2 separate regions of the Homo sapiens genome follow, and region 1 is linked to region 2. The links come from fine-mapping of genetic effects on gene expression. A gene starts in region 2. The other region holds a variant in brackets. All regions are shown on one strand. Distances are between the middles of the regions.

Region 1 (5,375 bases), 52 kb before region 2:
AGGTATCCCATATGGAGCCTTGATTTTCCTTCCCACACTTTCTTTCTGATATGTTGCTTATCTTCTGTGAAAAAAAAGCTCATCGTTAGAGCTTGCCAGATTATCATAACTGGCAACTGGTTATTAACGGTTATTCATAATATTTTCCCTTCACTTTACATCTTACAAAATGCTTTAATGTACGCTTTACCTTCTGATACTCAGGGCAACTTCCTAAGATGGGCAGGGTTGGTTCTCTTTCCATCTTATATGCGATAAAACTAGAGGGGAAGATAAGCACTTCCTTCCAAAAGCACAACATCATTGCACGTTGGTGTGATTGTCTCTCTTGGCCACAGTTATGGGGATATTGTCTTATGAATTTGGGATGTGCCATAAAACAGGACATGGCGTTTTTTTTGTTTTTGTTTTTGTTTTGAGATGGAGTTTCGCTCTTGTTGCCCAGGCTGGAGTGCAATGGGCAATGGCGTGATCTCGGCTCACTGCAACCCCCGCCTCCCAGGTTCAAGCGATTCTCCTGCCTCAGCCTCCCTAGTAGCTGGGATTACAAGCATGTGCCACCATGCCCAGCTAATTTTGTATTTTTAGTAGAGGCAGGGTTTCTCCATGTTGGTCAGGCTGGTCTCGAACTCCCAACCTCAGGTGATCCACCCGCCTCGGCCTCCCAAAGTGCTGGGATTACAGGCATGAGCCACCGCGCCCGGCCAACACAGTGTTTTAAACCAATGCTGGGATAAAGCATCCAGGCTCTTAGGTCCCTGGAACTCAATGGCTGACAGTCTTGCTTTCAGTTTTTCCTCTGAAATGAGGCACCATTTATTCATGCAGTGTGTTGTGGCACCACAAGGACTGGCCTCAGGGGCCAGACACTGAGAGGGAGTAGGAGGGAGAAGTAGGCCAACACACCCAGGCACTCTCTAAAATCAGGCAGAGCAACTGCCAGTTATAGGCGAGTTGCATTTTATGGTAGAATTAAAAAAGTTCTCTCTCTCTCTCTCTTACTCCCTTCCTCCTCCGTCCACATCTCTGTCCTTTGTCCAAAATTTGCCATCTGACTATTATGCAGACTCTTCTCAAATTTCCACTGGAAGCTCAACAGAGCACTTTTATGAAGATGAACAGAAAGCATTAGCTGGATTACACAGTAAGGCCTGGGCTGCGTCCATCAGCAGAAAGAGATGTCCCCTTATTTGGCCTTTCTTTCATTCAAGCCTTCTAAAAAGGGTTCTGTAAAGAGAAAGTGCCTTTGAAAGTGCGGTCTATAGTCAGATGTTAGCCAGACGCTCTTGGAATAATCCTTCGTAATAGCCTCATTGTGTGTTTCCTTTTTGGGTTTTAAAAGATGTACATTCAAGCCTACAAGACCAGTAACCTGCGAATGAAGATCATCAAGAATGACTTCCCCAGCCACCCTCTTTACCTGGAGGGGGCGCTCACCAGGAGCACCCATTACCAGCAATACCAACCGGTTGTCACCCTGCAGAAGGGCTACACCATCCACTGGGACCAGACGGCCCCCGCCGAACTCGCCATCTGGCTCATCAACTTCAACAAGTGAGTGGGTGTCCAGCCAGGAGCAGTGAGCTCAAAGCTGATAACGATGCCTTGTTGCAAAGTCCTGGACTTGCGTCTAACGAAACCACAGGCTAGCCCATGTGATCCATGCAGGAGTACCTAGAGGGGTTGACATCACCCAGGAGTTAAGAATTAAAGGACACAGGCCAAGCCCCCGCTCCAGCATGGGTAACCTTGGCCAGCGCACGTAACCTCTTGAGCCTGAGCTCCTTGATCTTTGAGTTGAGGATAGTATTACCTTGCAGGAGTGCAATGAGGACCCAAGGAGATAAGGTATGGCGGGCACCCAGGACCTGGCATTAGCCAGTGCTCGACAGATGACAAAAATATCTGGGTATTGTTGTTACCATCCTACAGAGAGGGAAACGAGGCTCTGCGAGATAAAGTGTTGAGGCCGAGGGCATCTGGATAGGGCTTCATATATTTAGATTCTAGTATTTTCTATGCACATTATTTACTTGTCACAGTATTTCTGTGAGACAGACATTTACCAGATGTGGGAAATGAGACCAAAGCGATGAAATCGGCCCTACAATCAAGCTGGACCCAGAAGGGGCTCAGCCTAGGTCCTTTGGATCCTGTGCTCTTTAACTACGAAAAGAATGTCTTTTTCCCAAAGTTCCATATGCAGCACCCCCAGGGTTGGCCCTGGAGACACACCA[G/A]TGAAGCATTCAGGCTCTTTGCTCATGGGCAGCCATTGTCTCTCCCTCTCTCCTTGAACACTGCAACTCAGTCACCACGACAGCAAATGTGCTTTCAAAATTTCCCATACAAAAGTGGAGGTGTCATTTGGTGGAGATTTTTTGGTCTCTTTCTCCAAGGCATGCTCCAAAGGCCCTGTGGCCTGGACACCCTTGCTTGTAACCTGACTCTACTTCCAATCCTAGGGGCGACTGGATCCGAGTGGGGCTCTGCTACCCGCGAGGCACCACATTCTCCATCCTCTCGGATGTTCACAATCGCCTGCTGAAGCAAACGTCCAAGACGGGCGTCTTCGTGAGGACCTTGCAGATGGACAAAGTGGAGCAGAGCTACCCTGGCAGGAGCCACTACTACTGGGACGAGGACTCAGGGTGAGCAGGCGCCCACTTGGCTGCAGGAAAGTGGCTCAACCTCATCTTGTCCCCTTGGCCTTTCCAATAAGTCTAAGAACAGCCATGTAGTTAATGCCAATTAATGTAAGACACCTTTCTAGGCATTTTGACTCTAAGGCTGACTGTCCCATACATTAACGACATTTTTAAAGCTATTAAGCTTTAAAAGTAAAATAAACACCCTATTAAATATACATGTGAATTGTAGGGAATTTACATATTTCAGAAAAAAAAAAGTGAAGGCAGTAAATCTTAGAATCCAGAAAACATGGTACATTATCTCAAATCCTCACAACAACCTGCTTGGAGCAGAGGATTAAGAGATGGGCAGCTGGGTGTGGTGACTCACGCTTCCCAGCACTTTGGGAGGCCGAGGTGGGTGGATCACAAGGTCAGGAGTTCGAGACCAGCCTGGCCAACATGGTGAAACCCCGTCTCTACTAAAAATACAAAAATTAGCTGGGCATGGTGGCGCGTGCCTGTAATCCCAGCTACTCAGGAGGCTGAGGCAGGAGAATTGCTTGAACCTGGGAGGCGGAGGTTGCAGTGAGCCAAGATACTGCCATTGCATTCCAGCCTGGGTGACAGAGAGAGTGAGAGATGGGCAAAGAAGGCACAGGGAAAATAGGAGAGACTTCCTGAGATCATAGCATAAAGCTGACCCAGCTGGATTTGAACCTAGATCTGTCTGTCTTCAAAGCCCTCACCCTTTTGCTAACCTGCACTAGGTTCTATTCAATAGAGATATAATGAAAACAGAGTATCTGTTTCTGGGAGTTCTTTGATCCCCTCTCTTAAAAAGAAATTTCGTCTAATGTCTTAAGAATGCCAACCCAGCTCCACAGCAACGTCGATAGCAAACTGTGAGGAGTAAGGGTAAAAGATCAGTTGATGGCCAGTTTTCTATTCTTATATGGAAGTCAATGATAAAGAAACTGATAACAGATGATCTATCTTATTTATGGCTCCATCAATTTGATTAAGGGAAAATTAAAATTTAGAATCAAAAGTATAAGTAAAATGTTGGGATGGGAGGGCAATAAAAAACACCTCTTTCCCCACACAAGTGCTACGCCAGCTGGGGGCAGACAAGCTGGCAGGGGAAGAGGAAGTGATCCACCTTACTGATGATAAAGCTGTTGGAGAATAGAGCTTTCCAATATCATCCCCAATTTTACCTCCTCCGCCCCAGGGAGCACTGGGCAATTACAGGCTCCCCACATAGGGCCCAGCCCGAAAACCTCAGAGCATGGAAGACAGACCAGAGTGCCCCTGCTCTACGGGCTGAGCCAAATACCCAAAACCAACCAATTATATGAGACACTCTCTTCCCATGGGAAGAAGTGGATGAGGGGAGGGCCCAGGGGCCAGGAGTATTTAGGAAAATCCTCCCATATGAATACCAGAGGAGGAGGAGTGAGATATGCCCCACATACCACTAGGAAATATTATGATTAAAGTAACAGATGTTGATAAGGTAAAGTCCCTGGGATACCATCCATGCAGATTTTCTTCTTTCCGGCTCATGAGTGAAATGTTCAAAAGATGTGAATTTTTCAAATGGAAACTTCCACTAAGTAAGTTGAACCTCTTTGATCAAAGTCTTAAAAATCTAAGGCTGGTCTGCTTGTCACCTTAAGCACATTTTTTGGTTGGTAGCATAGCTTAGCCCTATGCCTGTTGATCATTGTGTTGTGTTTCAATTCAGCAACGCCTTAGGGACCAGGAGTTGGGTTATAGGGGGTCTGTTTCCTATGGAGAAGGGCTGCAAACTCTTGGGCTTTTAAAAATCTTTCTGCCTTATACGTTTGTTGTTTCTTATACTCAGAGCACCTGCCTTTAGCAGCTACCTTCTAATAATCTACTATGGGCTAGGATACTTAACAACCAGCTTGCTATAATTAGGGGTAAAATTAAAATAAGTCAGCTAAAAGGGAGGGGATTTCAAAGTGTGAAATATATAAGCTCTGAATCATCTCTCATTTTTTCCAGGTTAAAAAAACTGTTAAGTGATTGTAGCTGTGTTCTGGATAGCTAAGTTTGCTTAATACCACCTCAGTGAATTCTTATAATGATTCTTACTAAATTATAAACAAGTACATTATTTAAGGTGCACAGCCATCAGTAGCGCTGCTCTGCAACATTACTTGGTCATAGCCAGGATTTGAGCACTGGGCTGGCAGATGCCCAGGCCCGTGCTCCTTTCATGCCTTCCAGGGCTTTGCAGTTCAGCCAGCTTGCACACATCCAAGTTGTAGGTCAGGATTAGGGAAGGCAGCTGCTACCTACCATGGGCTGGATGGTCTTTTAGGTCACTCCCAGTTTAGATAATCTGATATATAATGGCAACAAGGAAACCTGAATACTGTTAAGTTTTGTGCAGAAGCCTCAGGACCAATCCCATTTCTGTGCTTGGTCCCAGGAGTGGTTTGGAGCATGTTGGGAGCCTCCAGGGAGACGTGACCATGGGCAGCACTGAACTGCCTTCCTCCTAAGCTGCTCAAAGCGGGTGCTCACCTGCCTCCCCAGCTTCCCCACCACGCAGGGCATGGAATGCAGATATGGCTGCTCTGCTCTCAGCCCTGAGCACGAGGCCTCTGTAACAGTCAGTTTCTACTTTACTCTGAGATCACTTGATGTGGATGGCTTGAAACATAAAGCCTCTCAAGGAAGCTCAGATTAAGTGGAGGTGCTACAGAGAGAAGA
Region 2 (5,375 bases):
GCTCCAAATCCCTCCAACTGCCTCTTCCCATTATACCTGGCTATCATAATGTAAAATGTAATAACCACCTTTGGTTTTTCTACACCAATTGGGACTCAGAATTAGTTGTAACACAATGGAAGGAATTCTCACCTCTCCACACCTCTGAGGCACAGCCTCTCACTGAAGCACTGTTTCTCACACTGCTGGGGAAGGAGTGAGGGTATGGATTTAGAGATGGTCACAAGAGGAGAAGAACTGCTTCCTACAAAAAAAGCACCCACAGAGATGGATACGCTCTCCCACATAAAAAACACTGCTACTGGGGAAGAGTCCTCATGTCTGTAGAGCGTCTACAAACATTAACTCATTTAATCCGCATGGCACCCTGCAAAGTAGGGCGTTATCTGGCTTTACAGATACGTAAAACTAGGATGAAGTAGCTAGTGAGGGGTAAAGCTGAGTTCAAAATCTGTCTTTTTTTTTTTTTTTGAGACAGAGTCTCACCCTGTCGCCCAGGCTGGAGTGCAGTGGCATGATCTTGGCTCACTGCAACCTCCACCTCCCTGGTTCAAGCGATTCTTGTGCCTCAGCCTCCCAAGTAGCTGGGATTACAGGTGCCCGCCACCATGCCCAACTAATTTTTTTATTTTTAGTAGAGATGGAGTTTCACCATGTTGGCCAGGCTGGTCTTGAACTCCTGACCTCAGGTGATGCACCCGCCTTTGCCTCCCAAAGTGTTGGGATTACAGGCGTGAGCCACTGCGCCCAGCCAACCTGTCTTTTTACTACATTATGTGGCCCTGCTATTCACAAAATCAATCAATTGCCCAGGCATGGTGGCTCACGCCCGTAATCCCAACACTTTGGGAAGCCAAGGTGGGAGGACTGCAAAGGCCAAGAGTTCAAAACCAGCCCAGCCAACATAAGGAGACCCTGTCTCTATAAAAAATAATTTAAAAAACAAAATCAACCATCAAGTCCTGTTAAAAGTATAAAAATCTCACATTTCTCCCTTCTACTCTGCTCCTGCAGTTTCTAGCTTAATCCACGTCTTCCTCACTATCCTTCATTTGCACTTCTGTCACCAACATGTGTGGCAGTACAGGTAAAACAGTTCAAAGAACTGGCTCTAAAAGTCGCGAAAGAATTTGAAACTCAGCTAGCTTGCTGTGCGATGTGGAGCAAGTTATTTAACCTCTTTGTGTCTCAATGTCATCATCTAGAAAATAGGGATAAGTACCTCCCTCATGGATGGGGTAAAAGGATTAAATGAGATAATGTGTTTTTCTTGGCCTTCAAAGTCTCTCCCCACTCATCCATCCTGTTATCTACTGTTCCCAGTGCAATCTTTGTTCATCTCTTCAGCACCCTCTTCGTCTAGCTCAGGGTCTGAGTAGGTCAAGGGGAGGATTTCTCATGAGGTGATGTTCTCACTCTGGCAGATCAAAAGGCTTTATTTGCTGGAGTCCAAAAAGAGACAAGGAGATTGCAAGGGAGACGGTGAATGGGGACGTTCTCTCTACACTCAAATCTATCCCAATCTTTCCATCAGCTGTTGATGACCACATGAAAACACAAGCCTGCATTCTTCTAGTCAGATGCATCAGGTGGTATTTTAAACTCTTGTCTGAAAGTCTTTCCCTTCTCCCGTAACACACACAGAGATAATCACAAAATAACAAAACATCAGTGTTGGAAGGAATCTTAGGACCCATCCTAACCTCCTCATGTTGCAGATAAAGAAACCGAGGCCTAGAAACTAGACATAACCTGCCCAAGGTTCCACAGCTATGCAAGTCAACCAGGACGATACAATCACCTTAGGAAGGGGAAAAGGCAGCAATGTGGTTTTGGCCAGTAATCTTTACCTTAAAGCGTATTACACACTCCCTGTAACTGCACACTCCGGTGCGTCCAAGTGACAAACCAGAAAACTTACTCTCCTTTGAACAAAAAGCGTGAGTTTCACGATACAGAGCCATTAGCCATTGATACTTCTCCCCTCAGTAAAATAAATCCACCCACAAAAAGCACAAAATTCCCAGCAGGGACATATACCAAAATAGGAAGTCTAAAATTATACTGATTTAGAAGACAGCTGAGATAACCATTAAGGAAGACCATCTTCACTGCAACCCACTCTCCCACCCACTCACCGCAAAACAGAAGGAAATGCTCTTTAGTAGATTGGGAAAGGTCACTCTCCCTGTTTGCAGGGCTCACTGACCACAAGAATCAACGCAAAGACAACCAGGGCACTGAAGGGTGAAGGGAGAGCAAAGCTGAACAGTGAGGGGCAGATCCGTGATTGAAGTGGTTTGAGAAATGGCAGGAGGAACAGGGCACTGGAATGACAGAGGGCTGGAGCGAGGGTCAGCAGGGCGCGCGGGTCAGAGGAGGAATGGAGGGTCAACAGTGGCTTCAGTGGGTCAGTAAGGATTCAAGGCATGAGTAGAGGAGGTTAGGGGGTCAGAAAGGTCCCAAGACAGAACAGGTAAGGGGTCATAGGGAACAGGGTCCCGCACAGAGAAGAGCCGGGAGGGTGTGCGCGCGCCGCGGACCTCCCATTGCTCCAGAAGACGCGCCATGTCTGCATCATTGTAATCGCGAATATCCTTCTTCTTCTTCCGGGGAGGTGGGGTAGACTCGTCGGGCGTCCCGGGCGAGCCTTCGGCCGCGCAGGACCCAGGCGGTGGTAGCAGTAGCAGCAGCAGCAGCAGGTCAGAGGCACAAAGCAGGACCACGGCCTTGCGCGCCCACCTGGAAGCCGCCATTTTCGCTGCGCCGCGCAGCGCCCTAGACGCGCTTACCCGACCTGCGCGGGCCGGACCCCGCCTTGCACACGCCTTCCTGTCCGCCTTTCCGAGGCCCCGCCTCCCGGCCCTCGCTAGCCTACCGGGCCCCGCCCCGTACCATTTCCTAACCCCCGCCTCTGGAAGCCCCGCCCCTCCGCCATTTTGGCCCCGCCCCACTGGCTCCTCCTCTTGGTCCGGCTGAGGCGCTCTGTCCCGGCTGGGTGGGTCCCTGAGTGCTCATTTTTCGTTTTCCGTCAGAGGCCGACCTTTTTCTCTGGAACGCACAAGCCAGGTCCAAAAGTTCCTTCAGGGCCTCCAGGAACCACTAACCAACGTCCCTGTTGACCTCAGTTTCTCGCCTGTGAAATAAATTGGAACTGGAAGTTCTGGAGGCTGCCTCGGCTCTAAAAAAGCCCATTTCTGGATGTCGGACGTTTATCCTCAGTCTCTTGCAATTTCCTTTGAGAACAGCCAGTTAAAAAGAAGTGAGTGGCAGGTAGGGCAACTTTTTTCAGAAAGTCATAAATAGTTCGAGTCCACTGCTTTCCTCATCAATAAAGAGGATTCAGTTCAACCAGCTTTCAATATTTGTTTTTTTTTTCCAAAAAGATCATTACTATTCATCCAAAAAAAAAAAAGCTTGCCTTTCTTTGATTTCAACCTAATACTGTAGGCTCTAACTAATCCTTTTCAAGGCTGAATCACGCTACTTTTTGTTTCTTAAAAAGATTTTGGCCAAAGATGCTTTGAGATTCTTCTTGTTTTAAACGGCTCATCAGCTGATGTCTTTAAAATGTTTAATTACATAAGACCTTAAAAAACAAAAAACAAAAAAAACCAAAGGCCGCACGGTGGCTTAAGCCTTTATAATCCCAGCACTTTGGGAGGCTGAGGTAGGACGATAATTTGAGTTTAGGAGTTTGAGACCAGACTGGGCAATAAAGCAAGACCCGCATCTCAAAAACAACAACAAAAAACGCTTCATTCTTTATACTGCTGCACAGTTTTATTTGGTATTGTTAAATTAATAGTTTATTTTCCTATTGATGGGCATTTATTACCAATTTTTCTGCTATTACAACAAAAAAGAGCTGTAGTAAACCTTATTCAAGCCTTGTTTGGATAGGATTAGTAGGCTGCATATAAAAGAAAACTGACTTTTTAAGGTGGTTTAAACAAGATAAAAGGTTTTATTGTGATTGACTTTTCTTTCACAGAAGCAGTGTAAACTCGAAACTAGGGCTGGTATAGTGGCTTCTCAGCCATCTGGTACTCAGCCTCTTCCTCATCCTTCTATCATATTAGCCTGTGGCTTCCACCCTCAAGGTCAGAAATTCCAGGATGGCTCCTGGAGCTCCAGTCATCAAGATGACATTCAACCAGAGGAAGGGAGAAGGCAGGCCAAACCAAGCACACCTTTCAAGTGGAGTCAACTTCTTTTAAGCAGCCTACTTGAACATTGCATACATTTCTGTTTACATCTCATTGGCTGGAACCTAGCTCTCCAAGGGAGGCTGAGAAATTGTCTTCTAGCTGTATACATTGTCATCTCAAATGAAATTAGGATTGTTATAAAGGGAAAAGAATAAAGTGGAGGTTGAGTAGGCAACTACGCCTGCTTTCCTTCACTCTTAGGACCAGTGCAATTTAAATTCTCTCACACCGTAGGAGTGGCTGATATTCTACATATTCATGCATGCATCTGTATGTAAACACGCTAAGCTATGACCTTTCCTATTGACGTTGAGCAGAAACAACTCATAAGAAAAAGATTTTTTCTTTTGTGAAATCATAGGGGAAATGTCATGAGCTTTCTCCCCAGAGCACATTGCTCCACCCAGTGGCTTGGAGCCCTATCCTAGTGCAGTCATACTAAAAAACATGCACAGCTGTGGCTGATCATGTGCTCTACTGGGAGGGGTCACCCTGGTAATTCATATTGCCAGCTTCAAAGTTAAGGGGCAAACGTGTTGGGATTCTTGGCCCACATATCTAGTTATAGAGAATAAGATCATTGAAAGTTTTACAGAAATTGTTGGGAATGTGTAGAAAGTTTCAGGGCTACTGACTTTCCTCTAAGGAGGAAATCAATTCGGCATATAATCCACTGATATGAAAACATCTGGATCAATTGCATTTTCAACATTTGGATATTTGAAACTTACTTTAGTGTTTGGAACTTGATTCCATTCAACTTGGGGGGAATTTTATTTACCAAAGACCTATTGTTAACCAAGAATCAGGTGAGGCACTGATGCAAAAATGAATATAACAATATCCTTACTCTGGCAGAGCAGATAAACAATATGCAGTAAATTTCATGCAGATTACAGGAGATCCGGGCCCAAAGGGATGATGTGATGATGATGATAATCTCTCCAATTTAAATAAGAGGAAATCCTGGTTTTACAATTACACAATTTGTCTGAGGCTGCACAGCTAGTGCAGCGGCAAGGCAAGAATCTAAGCCGAGGTGTACTGGATAACAAGGTCCAGTCTTCTTGGAGTCCTTCTTCCGCCACAGCACCATCTAGGTTAATCAGTGAGGCACTCAGGATGGTTAAATTGGGAGCCAAATGGAAAATGCATTGAAAAGTC

Alleles and levels. Positions count from the first base shown, and alleles are read on the strand shown. Sizes are in standard deviations (SD) of each study's normalised expression.
In carriers of allele A in region 1, the expression in nucleus accumbens of the gene that starts at base 2,784 in region 2 tends to be higher than with G alone (moderate effect, 0.49 SD a copy in GTEx).

The links. PIP is the estimated chance that this variant, and not a neighbour inherited with it, causes the effect. A credible set is the group of variants that fine-mapping cannot tell apart.
Region 1: its variant is the best candidate, but not a certain one, in a credible set for the expression of MESD in nucleus accumbens (GTEx, PIP 0.73).

What each region holds. Positions count from the first base shown.
Region 1 is chr15:80,935,332-80,940,706 of GRCh38, forward strand. CEMIP (cell migration inducing hyaluronidase 1) reads left to right here. Exons shown (of 30, transcript NM_001293298.2): 24 at 1,343-1,554; 25 at 2,463-2,648. Among named protein-coding and RNA genes, the nearest start is that of MESD, 52 kb to the right of the region's middle. The variant G/A (reference allele first, on the strand shown) is at 2,238.
Region 2 is chr15:80,987,036-80,992,410 of GRCh38, forward strand. It overlaps MESD (mesoderm development LRP chaperone), which reads right to left and starts at 2,784. Exons shown (of 3, transcript NM_015154.3): 1 at 2,544-2,784. The coding sequence starts at 2,756. RefSeq lists enhancers at 1,865-2,479, 2,468-2,747, 2,480-3,093, 2,733-3,027 and a silencer at 2,778-3,057.